7 linked regions of the Homo sapiens genome follow. The protein of the gene in region 1 interacts with the protein of each later gene in a biochemical or structural test. Each region holds a gene or a part of one and is shown in the gene's direction. Other genes may lie near its edges. The genes, in order: ADGRA3, CARD11, PARD3B, FRMPD2, DLG5, PDZRN4 and DLG2.

Region 1 (3,500 bases):
AGTGCAGTGGTGCAATCTCGCCTCACTGCAGCCTCTACCTCCCAGGCTCAGGTGATTCTCTTACCTCATCCTCCTGAGTAGCTGGGATTACAGGCAGGCACCACCAAACCCGGCTAATTTTTGTATTTTTAGTAGAGACTGGGTTTTGCCATGTTTCCCAGGCTGGTCTTGATCTCCTGGACTCAAGTGATCTGCCTGCCTCAAGCTCGGAAAGTGCTGGGATTATAGGCATGAGCCACTGCCACCTTTTAAATTAAAGCATGAAGCGTTAAAGTATGTGGCATTTTCTCTTCCATTTTGAAAGTGTTTTCTCATTCAGTTTTGAATATAAAATAAACTGTGATGTACTGATGAGAAATAATATTCAACATTGTCAGAAATTTATAAGTTAACAAGAAAAAATTGAGCAAAATAAATGAAACACAAAACATACACAAAAATGCATTTTATAAGCCTTCGCTGTGATATTGCACCATGTGAAACTTTTATTTTTATTTAGTCTAATACCAGTTTAAAGCATCTATTTGTGAACTTCCTAGCTGTTCTTCAAAACTATTAAATTAGTATAATCCTTTTCTGGAAGGAATAAGCTATTCTTTTATCTTTCAGACTTTTAATCTCTTAAAAAAATGTAATACACAATTCTTTAAAGTTAAAATACTGTAGTACTAAGATTTTTTTTCTATTTATTTTCAAAGACTTTTTCCTTTTCTTAAATGTAATTGTGCCATCTAGAGGCAGCAAAGAGAAATGTATTTGAAATTGTTGACAAAATTAAAGTTACTGCATGGGAGTTAGTTGCTAATTAAACATAAAGAAAAAGTTAATGAAATTATACCCACTTTTAGGTAAAGTTATGTTTAGGATTGAAAAAATTGTTTTTAAAAAATTAGAAAGCAAATTAGAAAGCAGTGTCTTTTTTCCTTATATTAAGCTTTTAAAAATTGATAAAATCCTATGTCTCTTGAATACCATCTTAATATATCCTTTTATATAGTAAGTCTAAATTCCTATCTTGGGATATAGTCCATAAAACTTTCCTTTATCTGATTTTAAGAGTTTTGAATTTTTAAAAAATGCGACATAAAGAATATACTTGTTCATAAATCTGAGTATACATCCTGCTATACCAGTTATTTACTAAGGTCTCATTGGGAGCCAGAAAAAAAAATTAAGCAGAAATTAGGTTTGCTTGAATGATATGATCTGGAATAGCCAGGTGGGGCAGGAAGATTCACAGGAGCTGGTGTCTGTAGGAAAAAACAAAGAAAGAAAACTGAATAGAAAGTAGGGTTATGATTAGGTTCAAACTATGTAGTGCTTAATACTTTAATCACTAGTGGTGAAGATAAGCTAATTTATATACATTGATTCCTCTTTTGTTGTGTTCACCTAAAAATATGAAACTAGAGAGCATTCATTAATTTTCTTTTTCTAGTGATTCTTTTACATTTGTTTATATAAAACATGCTGAATACCATCTTAATATGTCATTTTATAGATTAAAATGGTATTCAAAGCAACTTTGATATCATTTACTCTATAATTGAACATAAATGCTAGTGATGTTTTTGTTTAAATAATTTTAAAATAAGTACTATACTCACATGGATGTAATGTTTTATTTATTTCTACACATTAACATACAGTGAAAGCTGGAAGTCCTACCTATCTCTCGTATCACACTGATAAGTAACTACTGTTTGTTTCTCGCGTATTGTTGAGGAGACCCTCGTGTTTATGGAAACAAAAATGAGTATATGTTCCTATTTTTTTGCATTTTTGCACAAAGGTTGCATACTACACACACTGTTCTAAACCGTGCTTTTTTCTGTAGAGCAACATTTCTTAACTATGATGGTGATAATGTATCTTAAAGAAGAGGATGGTGATGGTGGTAGTGGTGGCCAATCTTTATTAAGCACTTATGTGTCAGCCACTCCTCTGATGTCTTTATATACATTCAGTTACTCAGCTCTTATAACAGCCTCATGAGAAATAGTACTGTCATCACCCCCACTGTACAGATGTGGAAACTGAGGCAGAGAGAGGTTAAATGCCATGCTCACAAAGCTAGTGCTGGTATTGGGATTTGAATTCACAGTCTCATTTTGGGATCTGTGTTAATAATCCCTCTGCTAAGTCTCCTTTCTGAAATCCTCTCAATATACGAGTTTCCTCATTCTTTCTTATCTCTGAATATTATGTTTCTACCATAATTTATTTAGATATTTCTCTATTGTGTTTGTTTCTAGTGGTTTGTACAGTGTCATTTTGCACATTTAATTGAGCATCTGTGAGACAAATTCTCCAAAGTGGAATTGATAATCAAAGGGACCAACTGGTTTAAATTGAGGTATTGAGCAAAGTGCACAAATATTGGTTATATTTTTACAAAAGAATGTATAAGAACAAGATTTGTAGTAGAGTGCTGGACAGTGCTCCTGTGTTTCTCTCTAGTCAGTTCCTGCCACCATCTCCAGGAACCACCCTTTTGATGTCTCTCACTATAGATAGGTTTGGCCTGTTTTTAGACTTTAGTTGTGTAGTATGTACACTTGTGTCAGGTTCTTTCCTGTCATTACATGGTTGGAATTTATCTTCATTTTTGCATTTAGCAGCAGTTTATTCTTTTCCATTGCAGTGTAGCAGTCCATTGTATCAATATGCCAAAGTTTGTTCATTTTATCATTGATAGCCATTTCTGTTTCTAGGTTTTGGGTGTCAAGAAAAAGCTGCTGTGAGTACTCATGTATATGTTTTATGATGGACATGTACACTCAGGAGTGAAATTGCTAGATTGTAGGCTTTCCATGTGTTTAGCTTTAAGTAGCTAAAGCCATGCAGTTGACCAAAGTGGTTATGTTGGTTTACAGTCTCAACAGTAATGAGAGTTCCAGGTGCTCTACATTTTGACCATGCTTGGAATTGTCAATCTTCAGTTTTAGTCTTCTGGTGGTAGTGTTGTGATGTATCATTCTAGTTTTAATTTGCATTTCTCTGGTGACTATTGATGTTGAGCACTTCTTTAGCTTTTTATTGGCAGTTTGGATATCCCCTTTTCCTGACGTTCCTGCTCAAGTCTTGCCTATTTTTAATTTTGTTGTCTTTCATTTTCTTAATTATTTATAGGACTTCTTAATATGGGTACTGAATATGAGCTCCCTGTTGGATTTATGTGTTGCATACATCTTCTCCCAGTTCATGCCTTTTTTTTTCCTCAATATTGTCTTTTTATGAACAGAGTTTCTTAAATTTTCTGAAGTACAATTTCTTGGTTGTTGTTGTTGTTTTAGTTAATGCTGTTTAAGAAATTTTTCTACCCCAAGATTATGAAGATCTTCTTTTTTGTTCTCTTCAGAAGCTTTAATATGTTTTACCTTTTATATTTAGTTCTGTAATTTGACTGGAATTGATTTTTTGTTGATGATGTGAGGTAGGGAGAATAAAATCTTTAAATTTGTATTCTTTGTTCCTTAGTGGGGAAAAAGCAACATAGA
Region 2 (3,500 bases), on another chromosome or scaffold:
GACCCTTCCGATAAAAGGCTTGCTTCCTGGGACTGAGGGGCTGTGTGACTGTGGCTTGGTGGTGGCTGGCAGAGGCCGTGGAGTTGAAGACGCACTTGTGATTGTAGCTCCTCATAGCATGTCGGGCATGAAAGGCCAAATAGGGTCCCGATTTTCAGATGATGATGATGAAAAGGCGTGTCAAATGCTGAAAAATGGAGCCTCTTCGAATCCATTTTAAAAACCGCCTTTAGGCACGGTGGCTCACACCTGTAATCCCAGCACTTTGGGAGGCGGAGGCAGGCGGATCGCTTGAGGTCAGGAGTCTGAGACCAGCCTGGGCACCATGGTGAAACCCCATCTCTACTAAAAATACAAAAATTGGGCAGGCGCCTGTAATTCCAGCTACTCGGGATGCTGAGGCAGGAGAATCGCATGAACCTAGGAGGCAGAGGTTGCAGTGAGCTGAGATTGCCCCACTGCACTCTAGCCTGGGCAACAGAGTGAGACTCTGTCTCCAAAAAAGGAAAAAAAAAAAAAAAACAAAAAAAACAAAAAAACACTTTCCATTCCCTCTTGGCCAGGCCCTGCACTATCTGCTTTGCAGGCAGCGCCTCCAGCAGCATTCCGTCTTTTGGGTTGGAGCCCATGAAGGCATGGGTTTGAGGCATGACTACTGATCTGTGCTAGCCGTGTGACCTTAGACAGGCTTCCCGTCACCTAAGCTCTCTGAGAGTCATTTCTCTAATGAAATCAGGATATCAATACTGGTTATTTTCAGTATTGTCAGTTACACCAAGCATAAAATGAGAAAATGCGGCATATGAGCTAGGACTACCTTTGCCGTGATGACTAAGGTCTGGAGCAGATCAGAGGTTGGACCCTGGAGTCCAGACCCAGGGCTGCAGTGCCGGTATCCCCGCAAACACCAGCTGGATGGACCTCGTTACTTTTTTCTGGTGCAACCTCAGATTCCTTATCTGCAATCTCAATCTTACGGGGGAATTATGAGGCCCAAGGAAATCACAGACCGAGCTGATGCTCCGTCAATCTACCCTGTAGAAAAACCCTCACTCTTGGTGGTGGCAGTACCCAATCAGTCTAGAAAATAGCTTGATTGGCTGGGCACGGTGGCTCATGGCTGTAATCCCAGCACTTCGGGAGGCCAAGGAGGAGGATCGCTTGAGTCCAGGAGTTCCAGACCAGCCAGCCTGGGCAACGTGATGAGACCATGTCTCTACAAAAAAAATACTAAAAAATTAGCCAGGCATAGGGGTCTCTCCTTACTTGGGAAGCTGAGGCAGGAGGATCATTTGGGTCTGGGATGCAGAAGTTGCAGTGAGCCGAGATCACACCACTGCGCTCCAACTTGGGCGACAGAGCGAGACCCTGTCTCAAACAAAAAAAAACGAAAAAAAGAAAGGAAATATTTTGATCGATTGATTGAAATACAGAAACAAAAAGAGAAGGAAAAGAGAACCTTCGAGGGAGCCCCTTAAACATGCTCTTCTGCCAAAGAAAAATTAGAAGGCAGCTGGGCGTGGTGGCTCACGCCTGTAATCCCAGCACTTTGGGAGGCCGAGGTGGGCAGATTGCCTGTGTTCAGGAGTTCGAGACCAGCCTGGCCAACATGGTGAAACTCTGTCTCTACTAAAAATACAAAAAAAATTATGCCAGGGTGGTGGCGGGCGCCTGTAATCCTAGCTATTCGGGAGGCTGAGGCAGGGGTATTGCTTGAACCACGGAGGCGGAGTTTGCAGCGAGCCGAGATCGTGCCACTGCACTCCAGCCTGGGCAACAGAGCGAGACTCCGACTCAAAAAAAAAAAAAAAAAGAAAAGAATAAAAATTAGAAGGCACAGATTCCAGATGCCAGCCTCTTCCTGTGGCAGGCCACATAAGAAAATCACGGCCAGGGCACTGCACGCTCCATACAAAGAACACGCCCCATGCCTTGTCTGCGTTCTCTCCTTGAGGGACTGCCGCTCTCTGGGTCAGTGGTTTTAATGGGGTGATTATTTTCGGGAGGGTAACCTTTTGGGTTGTGATTTGTTCAAGGGCTCAGAGATTATAATGGTTGCTGTCACATTTCTGTAATAGGTGTTGGTGGCCGAGAGCCAGAGGGTGATAAAAGTCCTTCCAGTCCCATCTGTGTGGCTGTCACTTCTTCTTCCCCTGTCCTGCTACTCCAAGCACAGTCATTCCTCCAAAGTGCTGGGTTCCTCCTGGCCCAGCCGGGGCCATTCCTTAGTGGGCATTATTCTTGCAAGTGTGAGAGCCAGAGAGGGGCATGTGTAGTATCCATGCTCACAAACAGGGCTCCATCCTCCTTTGTGTGGTTTCTGTGTCTAGCATGTCATCTTCCTTCCTGCCCCTCTGCAACTGAGGAATTTGCTGTCTTTATACCCAAGTATCACAGCAGCAGAATGGGGGCTGCCCCATGCCATGTCCTCGGTCATGGTGGTATCAAAGGCAACACCTGCCAGGACAATGCTGGTTATGATTTCTGCCGTCCCCTGGGACTGGCCTCATTCCTTAAGAGGCAAGATTAAAAAAAAATAAAAAGCCAGGCACGAGGGCTCATGCCTATAATCCCAGCACTCCAGCACTTTGGGAGGCCAAAGCGGAGGATTGCTTGAACTCAGGAGTTCGAGACCAGCCTGGGCAACATAGCGAGACCCCATCTCTACAAAAAATTTAAAAATGAGGCAGGTATGGAGGTATGCGCCTGTGGTTCCAGCTACTCAGGAGGCTGAGGTGGGAGGATTGCTAGAGCCCAGGAAGTTGAGGCTGCAGGGAGCCGTGATTGCACCACTGCACTCCAGCATGGGCAGCAGAGTAAGAACCTGTCTCAAAAAAAAAAAAAAAAAAAGGCAAACCTGCTTTCTGGAGAGATCTACAGACTTAGAGCCTGACAGACAAGGTGCCCATTCCGGCTCCACTGCCTGCAATCTCGGTGACCCCAACAAAGTCACATGATGATTTTGAGCCTCAATTGCTGCACGTGTAAAATGGGTATAAAATTACCACCCCTAGCTGGGCACAGTGGGTCACACCTGTAATCCCAGCACTTTGGGAGGCCGAGGCGGGCAGATCATCTGAGGTCAGGAGTTTGAGATATGGCAAAACCCCGTCTCTACTAAAAGTACAAAAATTAGCCAGGCATGGGGGTGAGCACCTGTAATCCCAGCTACTCGGGAAGCTGAGGCGGGAGAATCACTTGAACCCGGGAAGTAGAGGTTGCAGTGAGCCACGATTGTGCCACTGTACTCCAGCCTGGCCAACAGAGCAAGACTCTATCACAAATTAATAATAATAATGATACCACCCCTAGATTAGCATAGACCAAAGTGTTTCCAAACGCACCAAATGTGTCAAGGGGTTCTGCAGGCTTCTGCTTTTAAGTTTTACTTCTGACTTGCTTATTCAGAGGCCAGGAGGGAGAACAGAGAGAGATGAGCTAAATGCAAAACAGAGTATATGTGGCAAAGAGCTATTTCCTTAATTTACTAAGAACTCTTG
Region 3 (3,500 bases), on another chromosome or scaffold:
ACACATAATAGTCAGAAGAACTTAGAAGTTGTTCTGACAAAAGTCTGTAGGAAATTCTGTTATGAACAAAATGTTGTTATAAACAACAGCTACACACCATCCCCCAAAATAAAGAAAAATTCTTCTAGCACTCTTTGAACCTTAAACAGTGTTTTAGTAGGCCAACTCATTGTTTTTCTTCTCTCTGAAAAATTAAAAATGCTAACTGTTATGATGAGTTCCACAGAAAAAGACAATTTCCATGACTTCATTTCTTGACAAAGAACAGCTACCTCTCTTGCTTTCTGCCACATACAAGCAAACTCCCAGACATAAAACCTCCCCTCAGAGGAAGCAATATGGGACCACAAAAGTATCTTGAGGTCTGCCCTATCTGCCCACGGGAAGCCTCCCCCTCACTGTGAGCTGTGAGCACTGGCTGCCTGGGAGGAGCAAGGTGTGGGAGAAGAGATAGCGACTGTCCCCCCATGTGCTCGCCGACTGTACTGTCACAACCTCTCAGGGTGGCTTCTGCCCTGTCACCACTTGATCTGGATTCTCTCTCCAAAAATTTAAAAAAACAAGGCGTGCCTGTCTTTTATAATGCTCTGTTTTAAGAGAGAGAAATCTCCAGGGAGAGAACAGGACCCTAAAAGTCCAAGGCCTGGAATTCTTCCTTTCTCTCTTTCCATTTTAAACAGGAAGCATTCATGCTAAGAGAGTCCGGAGGGAGGGCTGGTTGTATGTTCATTTGAAGGCAAATAATGTTTGTGTGTTGCAAATGTCAGTGATTTATCCTAAGGGCTTAAAATGAGTGCAGAAAAACCACATGTTTCACTTCATGCAGAGAAATATCTTCAGTGGATTTTGAGAGAAAGTACAGGTTAAGAAAAATTTTTTGAGTGTATCGGATATCTCCAACATGAACCAAAAGGAAATGAAAATGAGCATGGTGAGGTGGAGGAGAGAGACTTAAAGAATTCTTATGATAAAAGATATACCGAAGGCTGGAAGTTTTCTAAATCAAAAATGAAATTCTAAAGAAAGGGAAAGGTGAAATCCAGAGCCTTTATTTCCCATGGCTAGAGTGACAGATTATCCATTTGTGCTCCATTTGTCATGGGCGATTTAAAATACAGCAAAGCAAACTGCACTGAATAATAGCAGCTGATGCTATAATAACTTGTACACAAACAATTTAATTTTTTATCTGAAAACTCTAACTAAATTACCCCAAGCTCAAGGATCTTTCATTATTATACATAGCCAAATTAAGACAAAAAAGTAGAGAGAATTCTATTGTTCATCCTTATAGATTTGTTCACAAGCTGCTTTCTACATGCACCGAGCTGGGAGCTTGTCAAATCTTCATTGATTTGAGCAACTTACAGAGCTGTTTTAACATCCACCTCCACAGATTACAGGGTGATTCTGACCCTCATTGACAGTGCTTGATTAACCACAGACACTGTATTCTCACAGCCCTGTCATTTCTTTCAAGTGTCCTAGCAGTGTGTCTGACATTGGGGAGCTTTCCCTTAATTATTGTTGTTGTTTTTCTTTTTTAAAAATTATAAAAGGGGGAGTGGCAAAAAAATGGGAAGGATCTGGGGATGGTGGTGGTGGTGAATGTGTGCACAGAAGGTTTATGAGATTTTAAGAGCTGCAAACAGAACTCATCTGTTTAACCCCAGGCTAGATAAAATGCAGTCATCTGCACATTGTTTAGAGGCACACTGCTTCTGTTATGGCAAACGGATCAGAAGATGCTTGTTTTCTTTAGTGAGAGATCCAGACAGGGCCACTTTCTGTTAGTGTCTATTCTTACCCTGGATGTTTCTGTGTGCCTTACCCATTACAAGGTACAACTTACAGCTGGTTTGGCATTTCCCTATTCTGCTACTGGACTGGTGCTACTTCCTGGCTTTGTGGTAGAGTTGATTACTTTATATCAAAGCTTTAGGTGTGGGCTGGGTGCAGTGGCTCACGCCTGTAATCTCAGTACTTTGGGATGCCGAGCCAGGCAGATCACCTAAGGTCAGGAGATTGAGACCAGCCTGGCCAACATAATGAAACCCATCTCTACAAAAAAAAATACAAAACTTAGTCAGGTGTAGTGGTGGGCACCTGTAGTTCCATCTACTCGGTAGGCTGAGGTGGGAGAATCGCTTGAACCCAGGAGGCAGAGGTTGCAGTGAGCTGAGATCGCACCATTGCACTCCAGCCTGGGTGACAGAATGAGACTCCCTCTCAAAAAAAAAATTAAAAAAAAAAAAAGAGCTCTAGGTGCTCTGGCTTGGGACTTTTTCTAAGGACTGTAGAGCATTTAGGGAGGGGAGGGACATATGAATCCACACCAAGATGTAACAGCAGCCAACCAGAGTTAGACCAAGATGACAGCCCGTTTAAAAGAGCACCTCACAGATTTAGAAAAGCGAGTGCAGTCCATGGAAACTTTATGACTCCAAATAACCTGAACATTTCTATCACCATGCCTAGGACAGACTTCAGCCCAGCCTGTCCTGGATATGGTGGTAGAAAAGGGGAGGGAACTAATGACCCCATCCTTAAGAGAGGCAAACTCACTGCCTTGTTTAGGAAACTAGTTTGGTTACTATAATAAAGGCCAACAGAAAAGGGTATAAACCAGATTGAAGTGTATTTTCCTCTCATGCACCAATGTGAATGGAAGCAATCCTGATTGACATGGTGGCTCCATGGCAACGGGGACCCAGGCTCTCACCTTCTTGTTGCTCTGCCTCCCATAGCACGTGGTTTTCACCTTGTGGCCTAAGATGGTTTTTCTGCTGGCCAACAGGAAGGAGAGAAGGGAAGAAGTTCCCTTCTCTTCTTTTTAAGGGCACGTATCACTTCTGCTCCCATCCCATTGGCCAGACCTATGCGGTGGCCACACCAAACTGCACAGGAGGCTGAGGAACATGTTCTCCAGCCGGACGGCCAGCTTAGGAGCTGCTAACATGTGTCTCTTCTTCTCTTTCCAGGGGAGGACCCGCAGATCCTGTAGACTATCTGCCAGCAGCACCTCGGGGGCTCTACAAGGAAAGGGAGCTTCCCTATTATCCAGGGGCTCATCCTATGCACCCTCCCAAAGGGAGCTATCCCCGCCCCACAGAGCTCAGGGTGGCAGATCTCCGGTATCCTCAGCACTACCCACCCCCGCCAGCTCCCCAGCACAAAGGACCCTTTCGACAAGACGTTCCGCCTTCCCCTCCCCAGCACCAAAGAATGCCAGCCTATCAGGAAACAGGCAGACCAGGGCCCCGTGGGGGCAGCCCAGACCAGTACCCTTACCGAACCCAGGATTCCCGGCAGAAGAACCCCATGACTGCAGCCGTATAGCTGAGTGCCACCGAGGCCAGCCCGGTCCAGAAAGGAAGGTGTCTACTCTACCTTTGCCCTTTCTAAACCTGAAGACCTCCTTGGTGTTAGGAATTCTCCATGTTACTGATAAGCTTTTTCTCACTGACATTGTAACGCATGACTGCTAATCAGAGAGAAAA
Region 4 (3,500 bases), on another chromosome or scaffold:
ACCTGTGTTCCCAGGAAAGTCTTATTTGGGGACACAACACAGTTATTTATATCAAATGAAAACTTTAAAAATGAGTTCTAACTGTCCAAGTTGAGAAAATCCAAATTGAAACAAACAACAAGAAAAGAAAAACTTGATTTTTTTTTCAGTTATTGTTCTGGGTGTGTTAAAAGAGTGGTTTTTGGAATAATCTTCAAATCTACTGTTCTCTACTTTTCAACTAAATCTGAGCTTTTTTTAAAAAAATTAATGTTATTGTTTGTTGTCTCTAAAACAAAGTGCACTTTGCCATTAGGCTTTATCTTCCCTTGTAACCCTCCCTCCAACCCTCTGTAACTGTCATTTCTGTTTTCTACATGAGGAAACAGATTCAGAGAGGCTAAGGAATTTCACCAAGGTCACACAGCTAGTAAGTCATGATGCCATTCATGCTCTGAGATGCCTGATTTAAGAAAGCCGTGATCTTGGCTTCTGCCCATACCCTCTACCATGCTGCTTGATTAGTTTCAGAAAGAAGCACGGAGACCCAGAGCTCACCAGAGCCCCATTGGAGCACCTTGACACACAGTCACTGCAGCCTCCTTGTTAACCGGTAAGCAGCAAGGCCTAAAGGGTGCTGTGAACTTGATGTGAGACATAGGTGTGGGGGCTATGGTACCTTATTTCTTTACTGATTATTAGTAAGAAGCCTCTTGCTCCTCCAGAAAATGCCAATGCTATTCCATTAACAGATGAAGAAGCCACATTTAAGCAGATCCGAAGCCAAGATAATGAGGGGCCTGGTGGCAGCTGTGCTGTCAGGGCATCCTGTTTCCTCTGGGAACCATACTCAGGCCGAGTGGCGGAGCAACAACATGCCTCAATATTGTTGCCATTATCCATTGCCATACCATGCTGCATAACAAGCAACCACAAAACACAGTGGCTAAAAGCAACAATTATGAATTTAGCTCATGATTCTGTGAGTTGGTCATTTAGGCTGTGCTCAGCTGGGAGGTCTTCTAGACTCTGCTGAAAGCCTTCCTGCCTTTTTGACTGTCTTCGGCTCGGCTATCCAGCTTCTCCTGCGGGGTGAATGGCCATTGTCTGGGAAGCTCTGGCTCTCCTCCACCAGCAGGTCAGCCTAGGATTGTTCTCGTGACAATGGCAGAACTGACAGAGAGGAACTGAGAGAGAGAGAGAGAGACAGAGAGACAGAGAGAAAGAGGAGAGAGAGGAGAGAGGACGGCAAGGTGCATAAAGCCTTCAGAACTGGTCTTCCATCATTTCCACTTCATTCTGTTGGCCATATCAGGCCTAAAGGCCAGCCCCATTTCAAGGAGTAAGAAATAGACTCCATCTCTTGATGGCAGGAGGCTGCAAAGTCGGATTGCAAAGGGTGCAGATCAGGGAGAAGAACTGTGGACATTTTTGCAATTGTCTAACTTAGGATGCTTGAATCAGATCAAAACCTAGATGGGCTCATATCTTCCTGGACCTGGAACGGTGTTTATTTTGAAGTTTGGGTGATTTATTTATTCACATGGTGACCTGTTGAGGGCTGTAACAGTGTCTTGTCATAGTTGATGTCAAATCCACAGCTGACGCCCTGATTGGATATCGTAGAGTTTATCTTGCAATACTTTTTCCTGCCATTTAAAACTTTATTTTCCCAATGAAAACAATTTTTACCCCCTGATTCCTTAAACAATATATTTTATTGTCAAAATATTTTGAACAACATATCAAATTCTAAAGAAGCCAGAACTGCTGCAGTCCCATGACCTGCTGGGTGGTTGCTCTAGACCTGGGGTCCTGGCACCACAAACAGAGAGGTAAAGCCATGGGGTGGAGAAGTCGACTGTGCCTTGTACCTCCAACCCCACCCCACCCCAGTGGCTGTGCAGCCTGGCTTCTCCAGGCCTCAGCTTCCCCCACTTGAAAAATGGATATAACTCCCCCATAGGTGGGGGAGAAGGTGACATGCATCAGTGGGTGCACCCTGCCCAACTGAGCCCCTGTGCGGGTGGTCTTTCATGCCATGGAAGCCCTTGCCATTGCTAAGTGCTTCACCCCTTCTCAACCCCTGGCCAGCGCTCTTCCAGGAGCAGATCCCCAGGACCAGCAGGCGGGCCGGAGGCTCAGCTCTGGATCTGTGCACTCGGCAGCAGACAGCTCATGGCCAACAACTCCTTCTCAGAGGGGTTTTCTGCAAAGAAGGAGCAAGGTAAGCAAAATAAGGCTGAAGGACACTCCTCAAGGAGGCTTGAGCAGGGAGCTGTGGGTGGCTGGCACGGTGGCTGAAAATGGGCAGGGTCTTCTAGGGGACAACTTCCCTGGGCTGAGGTTTATAGGATTGGACTAACATAAACCTGAAATTTGCAACTTAGGGCATAGGCATTCACTGAGTAGCCTCACTGGGGAAGGCTCTATGGGGGACGCTGTATAAGATGTAGGGTTAAAGATGCTGGGTCCCACCCTAGAGGAAGCCACCGGTGCGCAGGGTGGTGGCAGAGCGTGCTACATGATTCGAGAACTGACAAGGCAGAATGTGTTTGGAAGGGGCCTTCTGCACAGGTGAAAGGTGGGAGCATAGATCCAGGGCCGCAGGGAGGGCTTCTATAGGGAGGAGAGAGTTATCCTTCCAGCTGGCTAACCCTAAGAGGGTAATAGGGTTAGGCGGAATGTGCCTGTCTGTCTGTCAAAGTTAGTTAAGGTCCCTTGACTGAGCTGAGCTCCAAATAGCCTCAGGATGTCCCTCTTCCTGTTTGGCCTATGGTTCCCATACGCTGGCCTGGCCCGCACTGTCCTCCTTGGCCCTTCTCTGGCCTCCATGAACTTGGTGGAGGGCGTGAAGAGGGCTTCTGAGAGGCTTTGTCCACCTCCTTTGGCTTTTCTTCCTGATCACTCACTAGAGATACTTCTATTGGGAACTCTTGCAGGACACAAGTCACTTCTGGGCTGGAATTTTGGCCTCTTGGGACAAGAGTCCTGCTAGGTACCCTTGGGGGCACTATAGAAGCCCTACCCAACCCTATCTCTTGCTGGTTATATGACTCAGGTGAGCTTCTTAAGCTTTTTTTTTTTTTTTTAAAGGTGAGGAGCCTCAACTTCCTCACCTGTAAAATGGGTTGAGAATATGCACCCCACAGGGGGATAGCTGGGTCTAGCTAGTGATGGGTATTGCAGTGTTTTCTGGGTCAAGTGTAATACAAACACACTGAGAACAAGAGGTGCCCACTAAGCTATTGATTCAACATCTAGAGCTAGAAAACATTTCAGCTCATCTAAATCTAAAAGTATTTTTGTTTTTTCAAGTATTTTTATTGCATTTATATTTATATTATACATTTTATACTTTTGATACATACAAAAGATGGAGTTCTGTGTAAATTATGAAACTTATAATTCACCCCGAACACCCCTGTACCCAACTTAAGAGCCAGAATGTTGCTGATACCCTATACCCACCTGTAAGACTTCTGCTCCAAGATGTACCATTCAGCTGGGGCCTCAGCCCA
Region 5 (3,500 bases), on another chromosome or scaffold:
ATCAGCAAGAGGAAGGTCCCTATTCTGAAAAGCCCAGACTTGCCAGTCACCAGAACAGGGTTTTTCCTGGATAAGCTGTCAAGGGCAGGGCAGCCACTTGGCAGAGGACCTGGTGTCCAGGGAGCATGCACAGGACCTGGAGACTGGGGAGACCATGAAGACTCAGTCCTTCCTGCAGAGGGGAGGTAGCCAGAGTCTCAGTTAAGGAGGGATGTTGAATTTCTGCCGTATGGTCAGCACTGGCCCCTCTCGGGTGCCCAAGCTGCCCCCTGGCTTCTGCCTTCTGATGCATCCACCCCCATCCCTGGCAGTATGGCAGCCTGGACGTGCGGAACAAGACAGTGGAGGAAGTCTATGTGGAGATGCTGAAGCCCAGGGATGGCGTCCGCCTGAAGGTGCAGTACCGCCCTGAGGAGTTCACGAAGGCCAAGGGCCTGCCTGGTGACAGCTTCTACATCAGGTACCAGTGGCTGGGGAATCGGTGGGAGATTTGGAACCAGAGGAGAGGCTTTCACTGGAGACTCTTTTCCTGGTGAATGGCTCTCTGTTTCTTGCCCCCCAAGGCTGGGGCCATGATCATCATTCCTTGACACTCAATCTGCACGCTTATTTATGTTGAGATGATTGTGACTTAGAACAACCCTTTAGGGCTTAAAGAACCAGCTGGGCCCCCTCTTTAGGGCTTAAGACCTAGAGAATTTGGAGGCAGTCAAGCCCCGTTTTCCTGTGTGCTGTGCTCCTCTTTTTCTGGTGTCCCCCAAGCCAGGTTTGCAGATCCCTCTGCAGTGTGTGTGGACTTCCAGGCATCTTCAGTGCCCTTACTACTGTATGAAATGCTGTGGGCATTTAGGGATGGCAGCAGGCTTTCTAGGAGGAGCTCAGAGCTTTCTTCACATTTCCTAAGATCCAAGATCACAGAAAGCATGAGAACACTGATGCGGTACAACTCCCTGTCTCTAGGGTAGAAGATGACATATTTCCATCCTAGAGAGATTCCAGTCTGTAGGAACCAGGGGCCGGGCCTGGGCTTCGAGGAGGGAGGCAACTGGGAAAGGCCACCTGGAAAGGGAAGTTATGGCCTCAGATCTTGGTGAGTTCTTTGATGGGGATGCGCCCTCAGTGTTAGGGGAGCAAAGGCAGTCTTTGCCCCTTTATGTAAAACACAGGGCTCCCCACTTTGAGAATCACCACCCTCGGCGATTCCTGATCAAGTTTGGAGACAGCCCAAAGCAGAATGGCAGCCTTAGGGGCCTGGCCACAGAAGGCACCTGGTTCGTCCTTGGTGGCCAGAGCCGCCTGATCGTGTTCCTTCTGTGCTGTGGTCCAGGGCCCTGTACGACCGGCTGGCAGATGTGGAGCAAGAGTTGAGCTTTAAGAAGGACGACATCCTCTACGTGGATGACACCTTACCCCAGGGCACGTTCGGGTCCTGGATGGCTTGGCAGCTGGACGAGAATGCCCAGAAGATCCAGCGCGGGCAGATTCCCAGCAAATATGTGTAAGTGTTCTCCGGGCCTGGGGTGGGGTGGGGCAGGGGTCGCCGAGGGCCACCAGCCATGGAGCTGTCCCATGGGAGGGGGCTGGGGCCAGGGCTGCTGGAGGAGGGATTCTGCTTCTTATCTTAGCTTCTGCTCTCTACATTTTGCCAAAAGTGCTGGTCTAAAAAGCTGCTCCTAGTGTGAGTCAGTGCTGTATAGAGCACAGTGATGGGTCAGAAGGCATAACGTGTTTTAGAAAAATGGATTTATGGAGATACTCGTGCCTTGCCGCTCCCTCAAAGTGTACCATTCAGTGGTTTTCAACATATTGATAGGTGTGTGCAGCCGCCACTACAGTTAATTTTAGAGCATTTCCATCACCTCAAACAAACCCCAGACCCATTAGCTGTCAGCCCCTTATCCCACTGTCCTCCCACCCAGCCCTCAGCCCTAGGCAGCCACTACTTTACTTTTGATACCCATGGGTCTCCCTGTCTGGACTTCTGTGTGGTTGGGATTGCATAGTGTGGCCTTTCATCTGGCTCCTGTCACTGAGCATGTTTTCGAGGCAGCCTGCATCCCTGCATCATTTCCCTTCTATGGCAGGAAGCGTAACTCGTCATGTCACCAATTGAAGGCTGTCCTAGCAGTTCCTTTTGACACCGAGCTGAATATGCTGTAGTAGAAAAAATCGCCTGCTCTGAGAGCTTGCCCTGGTGCTGGTGTTTGTGTCACCCCCGCAGCATGTACCGAGGGTTCCCAGGGGCGTGGGAGGAGATGTAGCCTTGAGACCTGCCAAGGAGTGTGGGGGGAGCCCAGTGTCTGGCCCACCTTTGCTTTTCTCACCAGGAAGGGCAGGAAGGGCAGGGCAGCAGGGTCTCGATGGCCCTGCCCAGCATTGTCCCCTGTGCCACAGGATGGACCAAGAATTCTCCAGGAGGCTCAGCATGTCTGAAGTCAAAGATGACAATAGCGCCACAAAGACGCTGTCAGCGGCTGCACGCCGGTCCTTTTTTCGGAGGAAACACAAGCACAAACGCAGCGGGTCCAAGGACGGGAAAGACCTGCTCGCCTTGGATGCCTTTTCCAGTGACTCCATTCCACTCTTTGAAGGCAAGTGGCTGAGCTCATTTTCCAGTGGGCTCTCCAGATGGGGCTTGCTGTGGATCCAGGAGCTCCACAACAGGGACTTAAACAAAAGAGAGTCTTACTTTGCTTTTGTGCGCAAGTCTGAAGGTGTGTGTTCGGCTTGGTCGGGGGGTGCTGCCATCTTCAGAGCCACATCTATGGGGTGTGGCTTCCATCCTCCCAGTCACCGCCTGTCAATGCAGCTGCAGCCATCATGTCCCTGTTTCAGGCAGCAGGAGGAAGGAAGGAGTGGTAAGGCAGAAGTGTGCCTCAGCTGAGCGTGCCTCTTTCAGCAGCTATCTGGAAGCCCTAACCTGTGACTTCAACTTGCATCTCATTGTCCACTTGCATGTGCAAGAGAGGTCAAAAAGGCATGTTTTGGCCAGGCACAGTGGCTCACACGTTTAATCCCAGCACTTTGGGAGGCTGAGGTGGGTGGATCACCTGAGGTCAGGAGTTCAAGACCAGCCTGGCCAACATGGTGAAACCCTGTCTCTATTAAAAATACAAAAATTAGCCAGGTGTGGTGGCATGCACCTGTAATCCCAGCTACTTGGGAGGCTGAGGCAGGAGAATCCCTTGAACCCAGGAGGCGGAGGTGCAGTGAGCCAAGATCACGCCACCGTACTCCAGCCTGGGTGACAGAGCAAGATCCTGTCTCAAAAAATAATTAAAAAGAAAAGGCATGTTTTAGCTGGGTGCATTGCTGGCCTCAGTAAGAGGTTCAGTTACTGAGGAAGAATGGAGGGATAGCTATTGGGTAGGCAAGAAGCAATCTCTGCTGAGTGCCTTGCTTGCCATTTGTTTTTAGGTTCTTACAGGCTGCTTGGTAGTGACCAAGAGCTGTCGGTTTCTGCAGAACTTCGGCATTTCTGGCCTCAGTCCTGTGTTCAT
Region 6 (3,500 bases), on another chromosome or scaffold:
TCTACATCCAATGGAGCATGAATTTTATGAGGACAATGAGTATATTTCCAGCTTGCCTGCTGATGCAGACAGAACAGAAGACTTTGAATATGAGGTAAGGTCATTTTCATACCACTTCACATTTCTTCATGAAGTTACGGTTGAGGGGTTTTGTATAACAAAGAAATTAATTTATTACAGTGAGAAATGTCTTGTCTATTACATATCCAGTGTAAGATCTTTCAAATACTATTTGCTTTAGCTATGTGGCTCTCGTGTTTTAAGTATATTGGAAAATATTTTTATAGTATAAGCTTAAATATAATTTGCTCTCATTTTGTTGCTTTTTAATAAATAATATTGCAACAGCTACATTTTTAAAATCTGTTCTATAATATATGTGGATTTCCAAGTGGAGTTTGAAAAATATATTTAAAACAAAGATTGTGTTTACTATTTTCATTTGTTGTATAATATTCTAATTTTCATTGATAAACTAAATTTTATTATATTGTATTCTTTGGAAATGCAATACTCTCTTTGTGCCTCTGGTCTGTACTCTAAAGAGCCATTTCACAGACTTCCTAGAAATAGAGATGGCCTCATGCCCTTTGTTGTTAAACTATATTTATTCTTCACATGGTTTAATGTCAGAATATCTGTACTGTGATATATAACAATTCGAAAAGTCCATCCATTGATTATTTAAAAGCTCTCACAAAAGTTAAAGAATGTATCCTAATATTTCCTCTGCTTCTGCAGCCTGAATATCTTTGAAAGGTTTCAGACTACTCTGACATTTAAAAATAAAATAGATTGAGGAAGTAAAGAAGCTTTGGTAAACAGGCAGAGAACCCATGGTCACCTGCCCTTTTAATGCTTCAGGTGATGTCATACAAGTTCAGCAAAGTGTTCTCTTCCACTTTACAACCAGGAAATCCTGAAATCTCTTCCCTTAGGAGGATCTGAAATCAAATAAGGAAGCTCATCTAAAGCAAATGGACGTTTGTTTGAAATCTTCTCCCCACAAAAGTCATTCCTGGGGATTACAGAAATCATTATTTCTTTGCAGCCAAAATTTAGAAGGATGTGAAATGACAACTGGTAACTGAGTAGATGGTTTTTGTCATTCTTGTGTTGTTCATGTTAAATTTTTACCTCCTCTTTATTAAGTTGATTGAAAAGTTTTATTTTCTAAATCTACTCAAGCACTGACATGCATTACAATATCCATTGCTTTGTCTATTCATGTAAAATAAATTATAAAATTGAATGACTTATCCAAATAATTCAAGATTCTTATGTTTTCCTTTTGGTTAATGAATACTTTCAGTTTGGGGACTGGAATTATGTAGATCACTTCAACTTTTTATTTGGATGCCTTAAAGCTTTATTAAAATAAGTCAGTGTGCTCGGGGAGGGCATAGGGGAAGATTGTTTAGGCTAAGCAAGTTAACAGTAAAAGCCCTTTAAATGAATCAGCATGTCATTGAAATATTACAATACAGACAGATTTCCTTACATTTCTATGGAGCTTACTGTAACTGAACCACAACCTCTTTTTTGACCAATATTAATCCCCAGCAGAAGCCAGCATCAGGATGATGTCAGTGGTGAATTCTCAGACAAGCTCTCTGTAGCCTGTAATCTCAACTAATCACAGCATCATAGTCATTAATTTGCTGTCAGCTGTGATTCCGTTGCCAAAGGCTCCTTTCTGAGTGATTGAAATAAAGAATGTTCCTGTGAAATTCAAATAAGGAAGGAGTTGCTATGACAGTTTTCAATCATTAGAAAGGATGCATTTGAGAACAACATGCATGGTTAAAGGTGGGAGTGGAGGCATGGGAGAATACCTCCAGAGAAATTTACCAGATTCAAGAGAGAATAATGGTTCTGCCCAGTACTCCTCAGTCTGTTATCATTATGTGACACACACATAGAGTGGCACATGCCATCCCTTGTGGCTGCATCAAACTGCAAAATCTAGTCAGTCCACTGCCATCATTGGAGCCTGTGGTGGACACCATTAGGCTCATTCAGTGAAGAGATTTAGAAATGCTAATTCTGTCTATGTGTTGCACTTTTACTGTTACACCTAGAAGCAGACTGATCTGGTGTTTCTGTGACCAGCTGAGATGACCCTAGCTCCTCTAGGAGCTTCCTTATAACCCTATAGCTCTAGGAGCGGGATGGATGAGCACCTTAAGGAAGTACCAGTTTTGTGCCACTGAGAGAATATCACAGGAAAGTGAGGTTTAATGGCCAAGAAGACTTCAGCTCAGAAAGAGATATGCATTCCTCTTCAACCTAAACATGAGCACAACCAGGCAATCAAGGAAGTAGAAAGAAGACTCCTTTTTCATCTGCTTTCATTCATTTGTACCATAAATATTTAATGAGGACTTAAAATGTACCAGGCAGTTATCTATGCATGGGATTAGGAAGCTCCTGCCCCAGTGGAAGGAGCTTCTAGGAGAGGGAGGTCAACAATAAACATAAAAGTAAAGACATATTCTTTTCAATGGTGAGAAGTACTAATGGAAAATAATAAGAGTGGTGTTGGACAGGATGTTGCTGTCTTATACAGAGTGGTAATGCAAGACTTCTCTCATAAGAGAACTAAAGAATATAAGAGATCTAGCCATGTGAAAGGAGATTTTCAGAAAGAAGGAAGGGCAGGGGCAAAGGACCTGAAGCAGAAGCATGCTGGGGTGTACAAGGAGTAGCAAAGAGACCAGTGAGAGAGTGGAAGGGGTGAATTCAGAGAAAGGAGGGTGTGTTTTGTGGAGCCTTTGGCTTTGACCATGATATAGGAAGTTGCTTTGACTCTGAGATGGGAAGTTGCTGGAACATAGGAAAGCCATAACAGGATTACTCCAGCTGCTGGTCTGAGACTGACAGGAAGGAAGCAAAGTCAGCTGAGAGGGAGTGGGGTATTGGACCTGGGCGGTGATAGCGGGTGGAGTATGTATGACATAATCTAGGACAGCATCCACCCCAGCCTGGAGGGCTGTGCCTCAGAGCTTCAATATAGTTTGTGCTATGGCAATTTTCTTCTGACATTTTAATGGCAAAATATTACAGGTTAGAGTGAAGCACACCTTTTGGCATCCACCAGAGCAAGAGCAATGCATCCACACTTTAAAAGAAATAGCTTCTAGTATATAGACTGCATTTCTGAACTTGCTAAAATACAAACTATGCGGCTATTTAGGTGCCTTTTTAAAGACCTACTTACTATTAACTCAGTGAACCAAAGCTGATCTGTGTATCTCGTGAGTACTTATATACAGACTTAGTGCATGGATTATTAACCCAATAGACCAAAACAGATCTGACTATCTTGTAAATACATATTTAGGGACTTTTAACACACATATTATTTCACTGATGGACTGTAACAGGTCCCTTCAGAGCCACGGCAGACAAGCAAATGCTTCTTTGGAGATATTATACTCAGTGTCCATGTTATGGTGACTCTGGTGTGTTAGGAACCTCTATGAAAATTTAATGACACC
Region 7 (3,336 bases), on another chromosome or scaffold:
AATGAGAGTCTCTTTCCAAAAACAGGCATTGTTCATCTTACGCTAAACATCATTGTCTGCCTGGCTACAGTCACCAAAACAAAACAGAAATGCAAAATTATGCATCTTCCCATAGTCCTGAGGCTTCCTTTGCCAATGGAAGGGCTAGCAATGCATTCTCCCTCTCATGAAAGTTAAATTTCCAGAGACTTCCTTAGATTGCTCAAAATGTTAAAGATATGTCCATGTCTGCAATTCGCCAGTTTCAGGTCAAGGCCTACTTTCATCAATATTGCTCCCAGAAGTTTTCTGACACCAGAATGCCATTCCTGATCCCAGCTCTATTTTTAGGCCACCACGATAACTTCTTTGGTTTCTCAACTGAGCATGCAACCATTTATTTAAAAGACTGTCATTAATGAGTAGATGTTTTCGCGGGTCGTGTGATGTGCTTTCCATTTACTAGTGTTGCTGTGGCTAAGTACAATCAAATTGAACCACCAACCCTTGGTTTTGTAGTAATATAACTATTTATTTTCCTAGTGTAGATGCTTTCAGATTAGAATTGGCATTTGCACTGATTTTTTTATGTAGATTTATATAAATATATAGATACATATATATTTGCTTGAAGAATCACCAAGCAAATTGGTGAGAGGGTCTTTTCCAATAGAATTTACACCTCCATTTGTTGTGTTGTCTTGCACTTCCCAATGTTGATGTCTCTATGGCTCCAATGAACTGGTGTATTTTGCAGCAAATCTGATGACTTGTATGGAAATGGCATGAAAGTTACCCAGATTACATCTGGTGCAAATGCACTCGGAGCCTGGGGCCAGACTGGTGCTAACACTGCAAACTTTGTCCAGAGCTCTCTCCAACCTGAAGGCTTGCTGGGGGTGCAATGTCACCTTCACACATGCTGGGCCCTTTCAGAAAAGTGCCAGATCGTGTAACTGGTGCTATTTTTCATGCTCTGGTACAATGTGTAGCACCACGGGGGTCTCAGCTTTACCAAAATCAAAATTCCATTTGTCAGCTAAGTGCAGAGGCATTTGTTTTTTGCTCTCCTCCCACAGAATTGTCGGCCATTTATTTGCAGGCCTTTTGCGGGATTTCTTGGCTATTTATTTGCAGGCCTTTTTTCCCAGCCCCAAATTCTTGGGTTGGCTCTGTCTGCTTAAAGAGCCTGTCTTCACAAAGCTGCACTCGGGTGCCTCTGTGCGCTGTCTTAGATCCTACTGCCGGCCCTTCAGGACTCCGAGCCAGGAAAGAACTCTCCAACCTCTGGCTCGAGACTCTACTTTTTTTCTCATTCTTTTCCTTACTCTCCTCCTCCTTCTACTTCCGACTAATTCCATCTCTTTTTTTTTTTGTTCCTCTCCTTTTCCTATTCCTCCTTCCCACCATCTCTGAGTTGTTGACTTTCTCCTATAATCCTTCTCTATTCCCTTTCTCTTTTTGTCCACCTCTCCTTTAGTCTCTGTTTCTCTGCCCTTCTTATTCCTCTTCTGTCCTTTCTCCTCTCCTCAAATCTCTGATCATCTTCTCCCGTACATCCCTGTATTGATTTTTCTGTCCTCTAAAGGGCTCATGGCTGATTCAGACAGCAAGTCCATGCACTGGACTAATGACACAAATACTTTAGGTCGCCGTTTCACCTACTCAGCCCAGAAAGTAAAGCTGAGCGTGAGGCCCTGACCTGGAGCCTGCTCCAGCCCGCCTCCCGGAGCCAGCCTGCACCGTTGCCCTGGCAGCGATGATGCATGTGCTGTGGGCCCTGCCGGCGCCTGAGTGCCTCTGCCTGAACACTGCTCCTAAGCGAGCCCACTCCCAGCACTACCGCATGGCTCTGAGGACATTTTCTTTCAATAAAGGCAGACTCTGGCCCCAATTATTCTGATAGCAAACCTCTTCCTCCTCATTGAAGCCATGCCATCACCTTGGTTTGGAGAGAGACATTTTTTTCCCATTCATAAGCTTTCTTTTTCCCATTTTTATGTGAAGCCCCCTCTGCTTTTCAGCTGGTGATTGCTCTGGTGAGACTGAATGGACTTGCTGGTGAAATGAAATCTCTTCTTTCCTGTCTTGGTCCTGCCTAAATTCCTACAAATATATTTAAGCCAAGGACTCAGGCTAATTCCTAAGTTGATCACATTAATTTGTTACTCCTAGAGGGAAAAAGATCAATTCCCTTGAAGCATGTGGAGTACCTCCTGTGACAGCTGACTTGCCAGGGGACTCCCTACAGAATTCTGTGATATACATTTTACTTCTGTGTATGTATGGTATATATGGTATGTATACCATGTACACACGTTACATTGAGTATGAATGACTGTGGTTGGAAACACACACACACACTCAAGTCTGTAAATATCCTTCCTCACTGAAACCTGTGCTTTGGAAATCATTTCTTGTACAGCTGTGCAGTTTCTTGTAACAGCTGAGGACAAAGCTAAGACAGGCGGACAATTTAGACAAAGATCATCTAAAGAGTATAGTATCTCCCTAGCAACTCATGAGGACAGACAACCAAGTGGCAAGGTTGACTCCCAATGGGATGGCAGACTTTTCTTCTCTCCTTTTTGAGTTTGTGTTTCCTAAGTGTTTCTTAACTTCTGAGTGCACCAGGCTGTACCCGTTAGATCCTTTCAATATGACAGTTTTGTGCTTCTCTCTGACAGGATGTTTCTCCACCGAGCTGTAGCACAGGATGGGAGGGAGGTGGGAATACTCCTTGCCTAGGCTGGAGTTTACAGAGACACTGCACAGCTTACACTCCTGTTAAGTGTAAATATTCAACACTTCCATTCCATTTGTGTAAAAAATAAAGCACACACGATTATAAAATCAAGATGTATATTTCATACTCAGTGTGTCTGTGCATATTTATTGCGTTTCTAGTTGTCAGCGGTGGGTGGCCCCATTGTAAAAATGCCTGATAGAGTGTTTATAAACATGTCATGGTTTTATTATAAGATATAAATATTAAAACATTTTATACTTTATGGCAAATGATTTTCTCCCAAAGCATAATTTGTCTTATTTCATAAGGAATAGAATCACTCATGTCTATTTTTATCAATTTTGTCTCTGATTCCAGAGCTAAAATGCAATTAGGGTGGGTATGCCCTGAGAAGTATTGGCACTGCTGAGAGGAAGTGAAAGTGCTGTTTTTGCATATTCTTAAATATTTGGTTACCATCTTGCCTGCTTTTAATCGGGATTTTTCCAAAAGTGAACAATGTATTAAAAGATAGATTTTTAAAGATGCTCACAGCTATGTGAGGGGAAAAATCAATTTCCCAGTGTCAAACTGTGGGATTCCAGAAGATATTAAGGATACAGAAAAAT

What was found.
Region 2: the proteins of ADGRA3 (region 1) and CARD11 interact in a test that uses a peptide from one of them, tested with the Homo sapiens proteins (one large-scale study listed by IntAct).
Region 3: the proteins of ADGRA3 (region 1) and PARD3B interact in a test that uses a peptide from one of them, tested with the Homo sapiens proteins (one large-scale study listed by IntAct).
Region 4: the proteins of ADGRA3 (region 1) and FRMPD2 interact in a test that uses a peptide from one of them, tested with the Homo sapiens proteins (one large-scale study listed by IntAct).
Region 5: the proteins of ADGRA3 (region 1) and DLG5 interact in a test that uses a peptide from one of them, tested with the Homo sapiens proteins (one large-scale study listed by IntAct).
Region 6: the proteins of ADGRA3 (region 1) and PDZRN4 interact in a test that uses a peptide from one of them, tested with the Homo sapiens proteins (one large-scale study listed by IntAct).
Region 7: the proteins of ADGRA3 (region 1) and DLG2 interact in a test that uses a peptide from one of them, tested with the Homo sapiens proteins (one large-scale study listed by IntAct).

What each region holds. Positions count from the first base shown.
Region 1 is NC_000004.12:22,408,067-22,411,566, reverse strand, and holds part of ADGRA3 (adhesion G protein-coupled receptor A3 precursor), read left to right. Parts: intron 1-3,500. UniProt on the Homo sapiens protein: Orphan receptor that may have a role in planar cell polarity pathway.
Region 2 is NC_000007.14:3,037,368-3,040,867, reverse strand, and holds part of CARD11 (caspase recruitment domain-containing protein 11), read left to right. Parts: intron 1-3,500. UniProt on the Homo sapiens protein: Adapter protein that plays a key role in adaptive immune response by transducing the activation of NF-kappa-B downstream of T-cell receptor (TCR) and B-cell receptor (BCR) engagement.
Region 3 is NC_000002.12:205,612,475-205,615,974, forward strand, and holds part of PARD3B (partitioning defective 3 homolog B), read left to right. Parts: intron 1-2,981; coding exon 2,982-3,339; 3' UTR 3,340-3,500. UniProt on the Homo sapiens protein: Putative adapter protein involved in asymmetrical cell division and cell polarization processes. May play a role in the formation of epithelial tight junctions.
Region 4 is NC_000010.11:48,236,697-48,240,196, reverse strand, and holds part of FRMPD2 (FERM and PDZ domain-containing protein 2), read left to right. Parts: intron 1-504; coding exon 505-592; intron 593-2,073; coding exon 2,074-2,206; intron 2,207-3,500.
Region 5 is NC_000010.11:77,804,756-77,808,255, reverse strand, and holds part of DLG5 (disks large homolog 5), read left to right. Parts: intron 1-311; coding exon 312-460; intron 461-1,327; coding exon 1,328-1,498; intron 1,499-2,084; coding exon of another isoform or gene 2,085-2,160; exon of another isoform or gene 2,161-2,357; intron 2,358-2,394; coding exon 2,395-2,591; intron 2,592-3,500. UniProt on the Homo sapiens protein: Acts as a regulator of the Hippo signaling pathway.
Region 6 is NC_000012.12:41,509,820-41,513,319, forward strand, and holds part of PDZRN4 (PDZ domain-containing RING finger protein 4), read left to right. Parts: coding exon 1-94; intron 95-3,500.
Region 7 is NC_000011.10:83,454,673-83,458,008, reverse strand, and holds the end of DLG2 (disks large homolog 2), read left to right. Parts: 3' UTR 1-2,836; downstream 2,837-3,336. UniProt on the Homo sapiens protein: Required for perception of chronic pain through NMDA receptor signaling. Regulates surface expression of NMDA receptors in dorsal horn neurons of the spinal cord.